2 separate regions of the Homo sapiens genome follow, and region 1 is linked to region 2. Evidence: fine-mapped expression QTL. A gene starts in region 2. The other region holds a variant in brackets. All regions are shown on one strand. Distances are from middle to middle.

Region 1 (8,337 bases), 37 kb before region 2:
TTGTGCTAAAATGCTTTTTTAGTTGTGATTGGGCCAGGGGCCAGGATGAATCTCCTCTGTAACTCTGACCTGAGTCTTCAGGAAAGAAGATTGAGGAAGAAAGTCTTGGTTAAAATAAATCAGGTTGTCAAGCAGGGGTGATTTTGCCCCCAAGGAACATTGGCAAGGTCTGGAGACATCTTTTGGTTGTCACAAATGTGGGATGGGGGTTGCTATCGGCATTTAGTGGGTGGAGGCTAGGGATGCTGCTCCCCCAGGAAAGAATGAGCCAGCCCCAAATGGCAAGAGTGTTGAGGCTGAACAACCTTGAAACATGCTGGGAGGTGAAAGCAGGGAATCTGTCCCTGGGGAGTGTCTGGCCCCGGGGAAATGCTGGTGCTTGGGCTAGTTTGTCCAACCTCCCTCCCGTTTCTCCACCCCCAACACCCTCCTCCAGTTCTTCACATCTGTCTCACCTTCTGCCTCCCCTGCCCCGATTCTGAAATGCCTCCATCGAGGACTTTGGGAATTTTATTGCGGATAAAATTGGCTCTCAGGAAAATACAAGAGAAACATAAGAAACTAATAAATGTGGGAAAAAAAAAGCTCAACAGCAGAAGTATACCAGAATTGGCTTTGCAAACAATGGAGTATCTCGTAGGAGGATCTGGAAGAGATGGGGTCACATACTTTTTAAACAAGTGCACCTTTGTTCTTTTTGCATTTTAATGCTGAATATAGCTGTCTTTGTAGGCTCACAATATAAATGATTCCGATTTCCAATTTTTTTAAATACCAAAAGAATAGGAACACACCAACACAAATACTAAAAGAACAAAGCCTGATATACCAGAAAATCTGGGGAGGGGGATAAAGTGTTGGAATCACTGCTGAGAATTGAACCCAGCAGGCCACATTCCTAGCCTTTTCCTGGTCACCCCACTGTTTCACACACCCCAAATAAATTATCCTGCCTACAGCATGGTGCCATCATACTTCTGTGTTGCTGACATCAAATGATTGTGCATAAAACTACCTGTGTCACTGGGCGCGGTGGCTCATGCCTGTAATCCCAGCACTTTGGGAGGCTGAGGCAGGCGGGTCACCTGAGGTTGGGAGTTCCAGACCAGCCTGACCAACATGGAGAAACCCCATCTCTACTAAAAATACAAAATTAGCCGGGCGTGGTGGCACATGCCTGTAATCCCAGCTACTCGGGAGGCTAAGGCAGCAGACTTGCTTGAACCCGGGAGGCAGAGGTTGCGGTGAGCTGAGATCATGCCACTGCACTCCAGCCTGGGCAACAAGAGTGAAACTCCATCTCAAAAAAACACCAACCAACCAAACAAACAAAAAACGACCTGTGTCAACTCTGAAGGCTAGATTTACATAAGCCTTATTCATGTATTTTATTTATCTCATACTTATATGACAGCCGCATCCTAACACTATGGTATACTAATAGGTGCTTCATAAGGGATTGCTGAGTGTATGAATGAATGAATGAATGAATGAATGAATGAAACAAGACCAACTCCTTCATTTTGCCTGTGGAAGGACTAAAAATATGAATTTTCCGTTTGACATATGTCTAAGCCAAGATGTTCACATGAGTCAAAATACAGAGAAGCAAGTGGTATTTCTCCGATGTATTAAAGTTCCTAATTTATGTACATGTAATAAAACCTCTCCAAAACGCAAGGGTTGAAAGTGTGTTTATGGCTGTACCAATGCACATCAGTGGAGGATTATTGATTCTTCCAAAATAACTCTCGCGCCAACTGGTTTTCCCCAGAGTGCTTTTTAATTCATAGGACTTTTTCTGTGAATTTTGTATTGTTAAAAAAAAAAGTTATTCATCACATTCATTGAAGACACTAAGGAAGACTTCATTCAAGGGGGTCTTTGTGATAGGTTTAGGGACCACAGACTGCAATGGGGTCTTATAGTGGGGGAGAGAGATTAATCTCAGCTCTGACTCCAACAAGGACAAGTGGGGATTTGTAAGCAACGAGCAGGGTTGGGGGCCGTGGATGGAAAACCACTAAGGAAACATCAGGGGTAGGAGGGATTCTTGCTAGATCAACTCAAATAGAATTCTTGCTAAAGGCAAGCCTGGGTGATAAGATATCGAGGGTGGTCAGATACCAAGGGCAGGAGTTTTTTTGATAAACTGACTTCACAGGATTCTTGCTCAAACTAAATTCCACAATGACAGAGAGGGAAGCCCAAGACAGGTCTGGTCAAGGAGAGGATTCAGAGGAGCCTGACTGTTGTTAGGACAAGGAATGAGTCTTGGTCGGTGTTCAAGAAAGAATTGCTCTTTGAATGCTATGAATGCATCCAGGTGCAGAAATTAATGCGAGGTCAGATCACCATTGCTGTGGAGAGGGATCTCTGCCTATCTTTCTTTTGATTCTTCTGTTCCATAGCCTTGGTCCTAAATACAAGGTTTTCTGAGACTTAAAGGAATTTAGGGTTGCACCAGGCATGGTGGTGCACACCTGTAGTTCCAGCTACTTGGAGGCTGAGGCAGGAGGATTGCTTGATACTATGAGTTCAAGACCAGCCTGAGCAATATAGTGAGACCTTCTGTCTCAAAAAAAACAGGAAAGAGAGAGACAAAGAAAGAGAGAGAGAGAGGAAGGAAGGAAGGAAGGAAGGAAGGAAGGAAGGAAGGAAAGGAAGAAAAAGAAAAGAAATTTAGGGTCGCTCCTTGGTTCCTTGGGTGAGTAAATGTCAATGGCACATACTGAGCTTATCCTATGGTAAATGTACATCAAAATATGCCCAGAAATAATCATTAGGATGATTTTAAAGAGTGACGTGTTCAGTTTTAGTTCTTAAAATATGTCCATAATTCATGGTCAGTCTTAGCTTCCATGCAAGAAAATACTAGATTTAGCACTCCTTGTGTAGGGAAAATCAGAGCATCATACGTCCTCAGACACAGATGGCCATGCCCTCACAAATGTTAAGAATCTCTCAATGTGCGGAAGGACAACGTACATCAGGTAACCTTCAGAGCACTCTGCCTTCTGCCTGGACTGTTCCCTGGGGTCTCTGAAGACCACTTATGGTGTTAAAGGTAGCTGTGCCAAAGGACTGGCAATCAAGCCAGGCTTGAAGGTGTTTTCTAAAGGTGCCCCTGCTTTTTCTCTCTGATTTTGTGACTACAGCTCTTGAGCTTCTATAGTTAGTTGAACAGATTTTAAAAGACCTGTGATACCACAGGTGCCCTGCACATTGTTGGGCTCATCATATAGCCTGCTTGTTTTTGCAACCAGCACAAGATCAAAGCCATGCTCGTGGGATTCCTTACCAAGGTAGTGCCGGGGATGCAGAACTATCCACCTTAGAAGAGGGAACGGGAGACCAAACGTCCTGGTTTGCCCAGGACTGAGGGGTTTCCTAAGAT[A/G]TAGGTCTTTCAGGGCTAAATCGAGAAAAGTCCCACGCAAACCAAGACAAGTTGGTCACCCTATTGAGAGCAACCATCTGTGCCTTCAGTTAGAACTATTCCAACTACATCTAGCATAAATGGCATTGCCTATTAAAACTGCTGGGGACTTCTGCAATCATCTTTCCTCTAATTTTTGCAGAAAGATGCTCATACCCAGAGTGGTGTACACATTTTTCCCAAGGTCACCCAGCTTGCTAGCAGCATATCAGGAACCAGAATCTAGATCGCCACACTTCCAATTTAGGGCATTTTCCACTGCATTATGTTTTTCACTTTCCTATTCTCTTTTTTTATCACTCTCTTAAAATGTAAAATTCATTCAGCCAGGTTTTCTTTTGGCCACAGAACTCGGCTGTTAGGATAGTGAAGACTGTTCTTCCCATTTATATTGGGCACCACTTTTGGTTGTATTTATGATGGGATGGATGGTGAATGAGGGCTACAATGAAATCAGGTTGTTGTAAATGACCTCAATTGATTACCATCTCTATAATCACATGACATTCATTCCTACCTGTTGTTTCTACAGCCCACTGGAAGTATTGTTGTTGTTTTTAAGAGACGGGGTTTCTCTATGTTGCCCAGGCCAGTCTCAAATTCCTGGGCTCAAGCAATCCTACTGCCTCAGCCTTCTGTGTAGCTGGGATTACAAGAATGCACCACGGCACTCAGCTGAAAGTTGTTGCTGTTGTTGTTGTTTGAGACAGTCTTGCTCTGTTGCCCAGGCTGGAGTGCAGTGGTGTGATCATGGCTCACTGCAACCTCTGCCTCCCAGGTTCAAGTGATTCTCATGCCTCAGCCTCCAAGTGGCTGGGATTACAGGCATGCGCCACCATGCCTGACTAATTTTTGTATTTTTTAGTAGAGATGGGGTTTCACTATGTTGGCCAGGCTGGTCTCAAACTCCTGATCTCAGGTGATGCACCTGCCTTGGCCTCCTAAAATGCTGAGATACCAAAAGCATTGCTTTTATTTATAGAGTCCTAATCAATTCAGTAGTAGGAGGAGTGGGAGAGGCTCCTTTTTCAATCCAGGGACCTCCATAATGTTGTTTTTTTTGTTACCAAACACACAGGTAAGTGGCATCATGGATTTGGTAAACTAACAACAATGTGAGTGCATCAATCTCTGCTTCTGTAAGAATCCCGACTTTAGGATTTTCAACTGTCACTACTCCAACTTCTATTTCTGAAGGTTTGAAATCAATTGATAGAACAGTAGACAGGCATGTAATTGCAGTTTCCACTGTCTGTTCAAATGTCCAATCAAATTTCTTTTGCACTTTTTTTTTTTTTTTTTTTTCTGAGACGGAGTCTCGCTCTGTCGCCCAGGCTGGAGTGCAGTGGCGCGATCTCGGCTCACTGCAGGCTCCGCCCCCCGGGCTCACGCCATTCTCCTGCCTCAGCCTCCAGAGTAGTTGGGACTACAGGCGCCCGCCACCTCGCCCGGCTAATTTTTTGTACTTTTAGTAGAGACTGGGTTTCACCGTGTTAGCCAGGATGGTCTCGATCTCCTGACCTGGTGATCCACCCGCCTCGGCCTCCCAAAGTGCTGGGATTACAGGCGTGAGCCACCGCACCCGGCCCACTTTTTTTTTTCAAGGAAGCTGGTTAACTCAGTTTGTTTAACTCCTGCTGCAGTGGCTTTAAATCACAGCAGTAACCTGCAGGATCATACTTTCACACCTGAGGGCCTTGTTCTTCATCTATACCAATGAAAATCATACAACCAAGAGACCTCATTGTAGCATTCTGAGTAGTATCAGCAATTCCACACAGAATGTCCACAGGAATCTCATAGCCGTACTTGTATTTCCAGTTAGCTGCCCCATAGCGTGCCCTCTGTACCTCTGTCATTCCGGTCATCACAGTGACAGCCAATGTTTTCAGTTATTTTGAGTAAGTGAGTCACTGTGCTGGAATCCGATAATTTGTCAAGCATTTCTTCTGTATGATAATTACAGCAGTCTTTTCCTCTGACAAATACTGATGGAAGGCCACCCAGGTTAATAGCCTTAAAAGCATATGCATATTCTACTTGGTAGTGCTGGCCCTCGGGCGAAAAAAATGTTAATGTGGTGGGCAAAACCAGCGCTGGAACCACGGGACATGCTGGTAGAACCACTACTTTCAGCATAATCAAGTTTTTTTTTTTTTTTTTTTTTTAACATGCAACTATTTGTCACCTAAATGCTACCCTTCACTGAGGCAGTCACATGCCAAGACAATGTAGCCCTTCTAAAATGGCAGGAGGGCAGTCTGTTCCCCTCTAGGATGAACACCTAGAAAATGCATGAAAATCTTGCCTCTTCATACCTTACATTCTTTCTAGGGGAGTTTCAGGAGGCTCACTCTAAAAACTGAAGTTAATGTACAAACCAAGCAATTCTAAACACTTTACACATAACGTCTCATTTATTATCCCCATCTCACATGTAAGGAAACTGAGGCATAGGGGTTAAGCAACCAGCCCAAGGTCGTTGTTGCTGTTGGTTTTTAAACTCCGGTAAGTGGTGAAGTCTGTGTTCCTGGGCATTATGCTTTCAGAATAGGAAACAGAGCTCAAAGACTGCAATAAAGGAAACCACCCAGGATGTGATCTTGGAAAGCAGGGGCAGAAAAAAGGTGGAGGGATGTGTTCCTGGGGCACAGGGAGATAAATCAGGAAGATAAATATTGGTAATGAGAAGGAGGAGCCCTGTTGATTTCACGCAATTTAGATACAGGATAGCTGAGTATGTTTCAGCCCCTAACTCCCATCTTCCCTGGCACATCCTTGCTCAAACACATCATGTACCAAACGCCCTCTGCTGTCCTGCGTCAGTCCACACTGGAACACACCATAGGGTTCTGGAAAATTCCGACGTGAACCGTCTAATGGTGATCACCGAGCCCTTCCTGGTATCCCCAGCGTGATTCCAACCTCTGCACGCCTTAGTACTCCATCTTTCCCTTCACTACTTCCCTGTCCCCTGTAGTTCAGCTAGGGGATTAGATAGGACATGCCATAGGAAATGAAACGTCTCTGAAGAGGTGTGGCAGCATTATTAAGTGCAATTGTAAAGCTGATGAAGTGTCTTTGGCTTTCACTTCTCCTTCACTTCCCTCCTTTCTAGTACATTCTATCATGTTCTCTCACACTGTGATCACCTTTTTTCTCAGATGGACCTGGATGTAATTCTTCATATTTCACTGTGACTTCAAGACACCATGTTGCCATTCTTAGTGTTACACATACTTTACAGCTGAGCTTCACCAGGGGAACGTAATTATGACTTGACTTTGCGCTCACGAGAGTAGTTTGAAGTATCACTGAACAGGCTGTTCTATGGGGACAGGAATCCTCCTCGGTGCTTCTGAAATCAATGAATATGAACAAGTTTTATGCAGCCTACATTTAAGTTTGGTTTGCTCCAATAGATGGATATTGAACATCACTACTCTGATGCGTGAACACACTGTACCATCTTTAATTTTATAGGAAACATGTGGAATTAACAACGTGGACACCTTATGTGGCACAGCTGTTACGCTTTGAGGAAAGGCGATTGCTGGTAAGTTCTTCAGGAAGAAACACCTTCAAAATGGAAAACAGCTGACATCAATTAACTTCTGGCTTTTCTGTAATTTTGTATGCTGGCCTATAATCGTAAAGTAGCAAACATTTTCAGGTACTGCAACACATCACTCCGTCAAAACATATTACTCCACAATGATACATACAAACTATGAACGCAGTCAGAATGATTTTATTGAAATGTTTTAGTACAGTGTTAGAGGATCTTAAAATCTTACATTTTAAACCAATACAAGCACTGCAAATGATATACTCCTGAATCTAGTTGATGTAGTATCTAAAAAGAAAAGTGATCATATGAGTATCTATAAGTTGACTAATGTAATTTAAGTTGGAGGCTAAACAAACAACTTTGGTATATTCATATTTCTCTGGCTCCTGTTTTTGGCCAGATAAATGCCAGGTCCACCCCCATTCAGTAGAATTGGACAGGACCAATGTATTTGGTGGTCTCACTTAAGTTTCCACGCCAGGAGCAGCAAGAAATGTACAAATTTTGGGATTAAGCTGCTCCCAAGACAGTCTTCATCACCTTTGTGAACTGGAAACACCAAATAGTCAAGGTCTGAATTTCCATTGTGTGTGGCTAAGTCCAGTCGCATTGGTTCATAAATGTATTCTGAAGGATTTTAAAATACAAAGGTGGGGCTAAATAATGATAGAAACCATCAGTTCTTAATTCAGAGAATGACAATGCAGGTTCCTATATCCTTTTTAAAAATCTGAGATCATTATTTTAAAACTAGCTCTATACATTCTTAGGCTTTAAATTTAATCTTAGCTGAAATGATTACCTTTAAGTCAGTTGGCTTTAGGCCTTGGCGATTGCTCAATATAATTTTGGAATTTTAGGATGCAGCATTTCAGGTAAGTGACAGTTATGTTTTAGAAGAGGTCATTTAAAAAATGATCCAGAAATACACTGCTCTGATATGTCTAATGTATACCCCCCAAAATGTGTCAGTGTCCATATTAAGCTAAATAAAATTTGGTCCAAATTAAGCACAGTAACCAAGATGGTTTATCTGAAACTGAGTTATCCAAAAAAAAAAAAAAAAGGAAAATTCAAAATCCATGGTATTATAATTATAAATTTTCCAAGGTTCACTCCAAAGTAAAAGGATAATTAATTCTATACAGGGTTTTACCCAAATGTCCATAGGCATTATCAGTATATATTTACACAGAAGGCTTTAATCTGAAGTCACCTTTGGCAACCTCGAAATATATAAACTATGACTTCCACAATGAAATTATATACTTGAAAGTTGTCGCCTCAAAGTACTGAAAGAACAAAGGAAGAGATCACCTGTACCTGTTAA
Region 2 (8,337 bases):
ATGACTAGCAGTCCAGGGGAGGACAGAGAATATCATCACCATGGCAACTTTTCCCCTAAAGCTAGTCCTGCTTCTACTCAAAAAGATGATCATGACTACCTTTATTCTAGGTCTTTAAAAAATTGTGGCTAGAAGGCAGCATCCATTTGCCATTCTGCCAGAGGATCTTTATTGACCCCCAAATAAAAACGCTGAAGAGCGTCACTGACTCAACAATAAACGGGCATGGTAACTAAAAGATAGCCACAGACTCTTAACACATTTCCCATCAAGGAGCAGGGTCTAGTCTCCCGCCCTTGAATCTGAGAGGGCTCTGTACTTGCCCAACAGCATATGACAGAAATTATGATACACCAACTTGCAAGCCCAGTCCTTAATGGACTGGTGGCTTCAATGTCCTGTCTTTTGGAACATGTGCTCTTAGAACCCAGCTTCCATGCTGTAAGGAAGCTCAAGCAGCCCCATGGAGAGGCCTACAAGAAGAGGAGCTGAGGTTCCTAACCAAGCTCCCAGGCAAAAGCTAGTAACAACTTCAGTCATGTGAGCCATCTTCAAGAACCCTCCAGCCCCAGTTAGCCGCCTCAGCTGTGACCAGCCTCAGCTGTGACCATACGCGGCAAAAACAAGCTTTCTTCACTGAGCCCTTCCCAAATTGCAGATTTGTAAGCCAAATCAACAATTACTGTTTTAAGCCATTAAGCTCTTTATTTATTACATGGTAACCGATAACCTTGTATAACTTTGCATAACCTTGTCTCACAGTATAGCTAAAGATTCTGCCAGCAGGTTAACTGACCATAGTAAAATGTTACAACAGAGACATCTAGACACCTGCTGTCCTAAGATGTCATCATGGAATTTCCATGGTCTATAGTGAAGCTGGAGCGGACCTCTCCCTGCATATCTGAAATGATTTAGGGATAAGAAGGTAAAATTGGAAGGCTCTATGTTCAGTAAAGTAGCATATAAAAAACGCAAAATGGGAGGATTGATGGCCAGGAGACAGCAAACCAGATTTCTGATCCTAGTTCAGTGACAGATTCAAGAAGGGGCCCTTACATGAACTGAATCAATTTTGTCTTCATTTTGCCCTTCAGTTTTTCCTCTCTACGATTACACAGCTAAAAGCTGGATTCCTAGCACAGTAACTGGTCCAGAGAGGGCTGTTTATAAAAATTAAGCTCTGTACTTGTACAGTTCATGGAAAAGAGAAAAGTCAGGCAGTGAACCTTTTATACTCTATACATTAAAAACATAAAATGTAGCTATATAGGCAATTCCCAAACTTCATGCTGAGTGGTTTTTGAGGTCCCACGATTTCTAATTATCAAGTGATGGTTATAAAATGCCAAAAACAAAATAAAAGTGAGTCTGCTTTATATTTGAACCAAATGTATAAACAATCATACTTCAGTGTCTGAGTGAGTTTTGCCCAGTGGCACATGTGGTATTTTTAGGAGAAACTCAACACTGACTTAGCAGTGAACTGATCTAGATTAACCATGCTCCTTAGCAAAAGATCATGCTGCACTGAGTACCTGGAAGGGCAACATATTTGCTTTCAAAATTTACTTCATCAACAAATTTCTCCTTTACTTATATGACGACACCTTCTGAACAAAAACTATTCTTCTTCTCGTGTTCTTACAGCGACTGAAACTTGAACAAGACTGGCAAAATACTGCAACACTCAAACCTAGCTCTATCCTTCTCCAGAGCCCTAGACCATCCTCTCAGACTTCTGCATTAAACACTGCAGAGTGGAATTCTTTAGCCAAAGTCCACCTGCCACTCATTCACAATGTTTCTTCGCTTATATTATCATCGGAGCCATAACTGGAATTTGCCACCTGGAAGAAGTCACGTAAGATTCACATATCCTAAAAAGCTGACTTGCCAAAATATAGCATCTTCCCCATCAGTATTAACATAACTCCTCCTTAAGAAATTTTTGCCTAACCCCAAGTCAAGATTTTCTGCTAGAAATTTTATAGTTCTAGATTTTACAATTAGGTCTATGATCCACTTCAAAGTTAATTTTTACAAATGGTGAAAAGTATGGATGGAAGTTCATATTTTTTGGCATATGGGTGTCCAACTGTTCCAACACCATTTCTAGAAAATGTTGGTAAAATTGAACCTTTGCCAAAGATATAAAAATTATCAGTAACTGTGGACAGTTAACGGTACTAGACATTGGAGGAAGAAGGGGGAAAAATGAGACCAATTTGAAATGAGTCAAGGAGCTGTGTGGACTCAGGCAGATAGACAAAGGAGCCCCCCAGGTCAGCTTCCGAGGATGGCCACCACCTGAGGCTCTCCTGGACTTGAGAAATGGGTGAAAGTTACAGTCGAATCACGGCGTTGTTGCTGGACACAGCAGAGTCCTAGAACAAGAAGGAAGCTGAAAGTCCATCATCTTTAAAGCAGCAAGAGTAGTGGGAGCAGAGGGGAGCCCAGCACGTGCGTCCTGGGGTTCTCACAGTCTTTCAAACCTTGGCACAACTGCACCCTCTGGATAACGCAGTGGTCTGCGCCCTGGCTGCTCAGGAGAAGCCAGGGAAGCTTGTAAAATCGCTGATCCTCCGCCCGTTGGATCAAACCCTTGGGGGCAGGTCGGGGGAAGCAGCGTTCGGACCGTCCCCAGGTAAACCCAGCGTGCAACCAGAGTTGGGGACGGGGGGAAACCTTTAGTCGCACGCACTGGTCTGAGGTTCAGCTTTGTAGGGACGCGGAAACTGGGACCAGCCAACCCAGGACGTCTCTCCACCGCGCGCTGACCCGATGCGGTTCCCGCCCGCTGCGCCCACTCTCTCCCCGACGGTCTGTGACCGCCCAGACGTCTCCCTTCCGGGCTGGGGACGCCAGGCCGGGCGGCACCGCTGGGAGGCCGGGAGCGGCTCGGGACCGCCGGGTCGCCGCGGTCCCAGGACCGGAGGCCCTGCAACCGGGGGCACAGCCGAGGCGCGCATCGGGACGCGCGGCGCCCCGCCTCGGTTTCTTCGCAGGCGCGGGCGCGGGGGCGCGGAGGCCGCGTTGCCACCGTCCCGCCCCGGAAGGGGGAGCGCGGCGTCCGCGGAGGTGGCCCGGGCAGGCGCCGGCCCCCAACCCGGCCCCGCAGCCGCGTGCCCAGCGCTCTCCCTAGCCCGGCCGCCGGCGCGGCCCCCACCTGGTCTCCTGGTTGCTGAACTTCTTCGTGACCACCTTGCCCAGCTCCAGGCCCAGGCGGTCGGCCACGCGCTGGGACAGGTCCTGATGCGAGCTGCCGCTGAACAGCACGATGTTGGGCATGGTGGGGCGCGGAACTCCGAGGGGCGCGCGGCGGCGGAGGAGGTGGCGGAGGCAACAGCGACAGCGACGCGGGAGGCTGCTGCTGCGGGAGCGGGAAAGCGCGGCGGCTAGATGTAGGGAAGGGGAGGAGCGGAGGGGGAGGAGCCGGAGGAGGAGCTAGAGGGGGCAGAGAGGGAGGAAGAGCGGGCGTGGAGGGGGAGCTGGAAAGTGCCGGGGGGCGGGGGCACAGCCCTGGCAGCAGTTTTGGACGCCCTGGGTGGTCCTGAAGCCCGAAGGTGTCCTTGCTCCGCGAGAGAGCTCCGAGCTTCATTCTTGATCTTCCAGACCTGCCTCGCGGGGAGAGCCAATGAACCGCGGTTAGCTGGGCACAGAGGGAGAGTTCGGGCCGGGGGGATCCCTCGAGGTGCTTCGCAGCCCGGAGCGACTTCCCACCCCGGAACACCGCAAACCCAGTGTGGGCGACTGGTGTTCAGCTATAGCAAGGGTCTGCAAACTACAGCCTATGGGCCAGATCGCGAGAGCTCCCTGTGTTTGTACCAGAGAGCTAAGCATGGTTTTCATACATGAACATTTGCACTTTATGTGATGATAGCAGACACCGCCTTTGAACTCCAATTAAGAGAAATATCCCCCCCGCAAAAGAATTCCTTTTCTCTCATTAATAGATGTGAGTTGCAAATAATTGTACTCAAATATTACCGTATTTTGGATTATATCAATAAAAACATTGTGACAATTTTTTCTCTCTTGTTATGTAAGTTCCTACGTAATATCTTCCCTTTTCTTGCTTGGTCTGCAAAATGTAAATATTGGCCATGTGGTCCCTCATAGTTCAAACTTGATGACCCCTGAACTACAGAGTTGCCCCTGCACCATGTGTCCTTAAAAAATCCAACCACTATGTGAGTCCTCATCACAGGCTGAGGGGAAGTATTGCTCTTGGTGGCTCACTGGATCAAACCAAGTCCCCCAGATTCACCATTTTTCGGTAGATGTGATGGTCCTTGGGGCACTTCACAACCTTCTGCCTGTTGGGTGCTCAAGGGCCTGATCCCAGGAACACAGATCTCCCTAGACAATCCAGCTCAGTCCCTCCACATCCCTGGAGTCAGGGCCTCCTTCCTCTCTTTCCTGCTAGAAACCAGCAAAAAGGTTTTCTCAAGATGCCAATGCAGTACCAGAGCCAACTTCAGGGCACAAACCAAGTGTAGGAGAAAGGAAAGCAGTCCCTGTCTATAGAGGGCTGGTTGGTGATGCTGGTCACAGTTTCACACTCCTCAACAAAGGCTGATTCAACCGGGTAGATAAATGGCTTGGTTTTACTAATGTTTGCCACGAATTGGCTCTCCATCAACAGCAAAGCCCACTTGCAATTGGGTTGTAGCCTACTCTAATCAGACTTCATAATGGGATTTGGGAGATTACAGGGATGATTCGCATCATTGGGATTTTTCATCTGGGTCCTTGTACTTTGCAAGGAGATTACTTGGCACATCGAGTGTTTCTTGTAAACTTTTGTATCTGCCAGCCTATCAAAAAGTTATTCAAACTGACAATTTTAGCAGCATTTCTGGCCCTTTTTCATTCCGCCTAGAGATGCATATGTGCCCTATTATGTGAGAAAACAAACAAAAACCCCTATCTGCAATGGTTTATTATCTATGTATTTCACAGCTAATTACCATAGCAATGAGATTTATACTTGACCCACTATGTTTAAAATTTTTATTGAGTCTGCTAATGTAGTTATATTTAAACTCTTCTAATAAAATTTACTATCAGCAAATTACTATAATTTTTATATTCTTAATATTTCTCTCATAGATAAAATTGACTAATAATGGTTTCTTCTAAATATATAGATGCTCTTCTCAAAGGGAAAGTGGCATCCTCTTAGCATGATGGGGCTGTGGTTCTTTGGTAACACAGAACCAAAGCTGATGGACTATAAAACAGTAAAAGTTAAAGCCCCTGGTCTTTGGGTGGGTAAATGGCTGCAGATTTGGAAGCTCGGATTGAATTGTGACAAACCATGGACTTGATAGCACCAAGGAGAAACAATATCTCAGTTGGGGCAACTAATACAATGATTGTTGGTTCAATAGTTTGATGAGTTACTCTGCTTAAATGCTAAATGTAAACAAGGTGAAATGTGCCATTGGGGTTGATGAGAATACTAATGGGAATCATTGAAAAATCATCATGAGTCACAGACTGTTCAGAAAGCTGTCACTTGTAAATGAGCAGCTACAGATAATTTTATTTAAGTGTGAAAACTTTCTCTCCCAAATGCCTTTATCCTTGATCCATAGGAGCCAGGTTGTGGGAAACATTGGTCTAGAGCAGGTTTCTGAACCTCAGCACAGCTGATATTTAGGCTGGGTAATTCTTTGTTGTGGGACTGTCCTGTGCATTGCAGATTGTTTAGCAGCCTCCCTTGCCTCTACCCACTAGATGCCAGTAGCACCTATCCACCACTGTGACAACCAAAAGTGTCCCCAGACATTGCCAAATGTCCTACAAGGAGCAAAATCACCACAGGTTGAGAATCACTAGTTTGAAAGAACCCCTGGCCCTTCTCTCCTCCATGTGGGCCTTTCTTCATGGTTGTTTGGGCTTCCTTACGGCATGGCTGCAAGGTTCCAAGGAGTGTTCCAAGAAGATAAGTCTCAATGAGCAAGTGCTTATCAAACCTCTGTTTTTAACTTGCTTGCTAATGTCTCATTGACCAAAGCAAGTTACATGGCCAAGACCAGCTGTCAACATGGTATGGGACAACTGGAGGGCATGAGTACTGTCCACCAACTGTCTACCACAGTGCACTTCTTGAACAACATTTGAAGTTGGGGAGCCTCTGGAAAAATGGAACACTTGTTCAAAGACCCAAGACTTAGAAGAGAAAAAGAACATATACTCTGTGCATATGTGATCTGGGTCTCAGACCGTTTATAAAATATACATTATCTTAAGATAAAATGTTAGTGGAAAAAATTAAAATGATGAGATATTTTCTATTGTTGATTTCTATCTTCATTGACTCATGGATAGAGATTAACGGTAAAACAATGATTTGAATTTATGAACAGTTTCACGTCTTCTATTTCCCACATCATCTAGCCAAGTTCTTTGTATATAGTAAGAAGTCTAAGTATTTGCTGAGTGAATTTATCCCTGACTATTTTAGGGCTGAGAAACGGAAGAAATTTCCCCAAGTCACATGGCTAGTTGAAAGCAGCAAAGGAATTAGAATGTGGATCTTCTAGTCCAGTCCTTTTCTCTCTAGAATGGTACCATCCAAAAGAAATGTAATGATTGTTTCCTATATGTTTCTATGAAAAAATTTTAAACTTTTTAAAAAGAAATATAATGCAAGCCACATATGTAATTTACACTTTAGTAGCTGTATTTTAAAAGAATATAAAAAACAAGTGAAGGTAATTTTAATAATACACTTTAATCCAATATCCAAAATATTATCATTCCAACATGTAATCAACATAAAACATATTAATGAGCTACTTTGCATCTTTTTGTGTCAAGCCTTCAAAATCCAATATAGATTTTACGCTTACAGCACATCTTAATTTGGACTTGCCATATCTGAAGTGCTCATCAGCCACATGTGGCTGATAGTTGCTGTATTAGAACAAGAAGTTCTAGAACACTAGTTCCTAAGAGCAATGCCAAGACACTCTGACATAACCTTTTTCTTGTATGTTTTTATTAGGGGTGTGGCAAATAATTTATAACTTATTATGAAATGCTAACATTTATAAGCAATGTACTTTAAAAATAAGTTAAAATAGATTCAACTTTAATTCTCTATTAATAACATTTTCACTCAGAATCAAGTAATTTTTCTGATTTTTATTTCTAGAACTTTACCTTTTACTTCTGTTGTTTAAAGAAAAATCCAAAAACCGAGATGAAAATAGAGTGAACACCGATATACCCACCACCTAGATTTTGTAGCTGTCAAAATTTTCCCATGTTTGCTTTATCTGTTTTTATCTAAAGTATTTTAAAGTAAATTACAGATGTTATATATTCACCTCTAAATTATTTAGCCTGCATATATCTGTAAAAAGATAAAGACATCACACCGTATGCAAACGTTAATTTAAAATTGATCAAAGACCTAAATGCAAGAGCTAAAACTATAAAACTCTTTTTCTTTTCTTTTTTTCTTTTTTTCTTCTCTTTTTTCTTTTCTTTTTCTTTTCTTGTTTTCTTTTCTTTTTTTTCTTTTCTTTTCTTTCCTTTTCTTTTTTCTTTCTTTTTTTTTTTTTTTTTGCAGAGTCTCACTCTCTTGCCCAGGCTGGAGTGCAGTGGTGTGATCACCGCTCACTGCAGTCTCGACCTCCTGGGCTCAAGTGATCCTCCTGCCTCAGCCTCCCGAGTAGCTGGGACTACAGGTACACGCCACCATACCAAGCTAATTTTTGTATTTTTTGTAGAGATGGCATCTTTACAAAACTACGGAATTCTTAAACTTAAAGCCTAAAACTATGGAATTCTTAAAAGAAAACATAGGTATAAATTTTCATGACTTTGGATTAGGCAAATATTTCTTTAATATGACATCAAAAGCACAAGCGCCACCAACAAAAATATATAAACTGGACGTCAAAATGAAAAACTTATGCTTCAAAGGATACCATCAAGAAAGTGAAAGAAGGCCGGGCATGGTGGCTCACGCCTGCAATCCCGGCACTTTGCGAGGCTGAGGTGGGCGGATCACGAGATCAGGAGTTCGAGACCAGCCTGACCAACATGGTGAAACCCCGTCTCTACTAAAAATACAGAAGAAATTAGCCGGGCGTGGTAGCGCGCACCTGTAATCCCAGCTACTCAGGAGGCTGAAGCAGGAGAATCGCTTGAACCCAGGAGGCAGAGGTTGCAGTGAGCCGAGATTGCACCACTACATTCCAGCCTGGGCGACAGAGTGAGACTCCTTCTCAAAAAAAAAAAAAGAAAGAAAGGCAACCCAAAGAATGGGAGAAAATGTTTGCAAATCATGTATCTGATGAGGGTCTTGTATCTAGG

What was found.
Region 1: its variant is fine-mapped to the expression of PRPS2 in whole blood (TOPMed, PIP above 0.99).

What each region holds. Positions count from the first base shown.
Region 1 is chrX:12,823,053-12,831,389 of GRCh38, reverse strand. It overlaps PRPS2 (phosphoribosyl pyrophosphate synthetase 2), which reads right to left. Exons shown (of 7, transcript NM_002765.5): 7 at 7,168-8,337. It also overlaps the pseudogene PSMA6P2. Among named protein-coding and RNA genes, the nearest start is that of PRPS2, 36 kb to the right of the region's middle. The variant A/G (reference allele first, on the strand shown) is at 3,398.
Region 2 is chrX:12,786,452-12,794,788 of GRCh38, reverse strand. PRPS2 (phosphoribosyl pyrophosphate synthetase 2) reads right to left here and starts at 3,377. Exons shown (of 7, transcript NM_002765.5): 1 at 3,170-3,377. The coding sequence starts at 3,291. RefSeq lists a silencer at 2,672-3,121.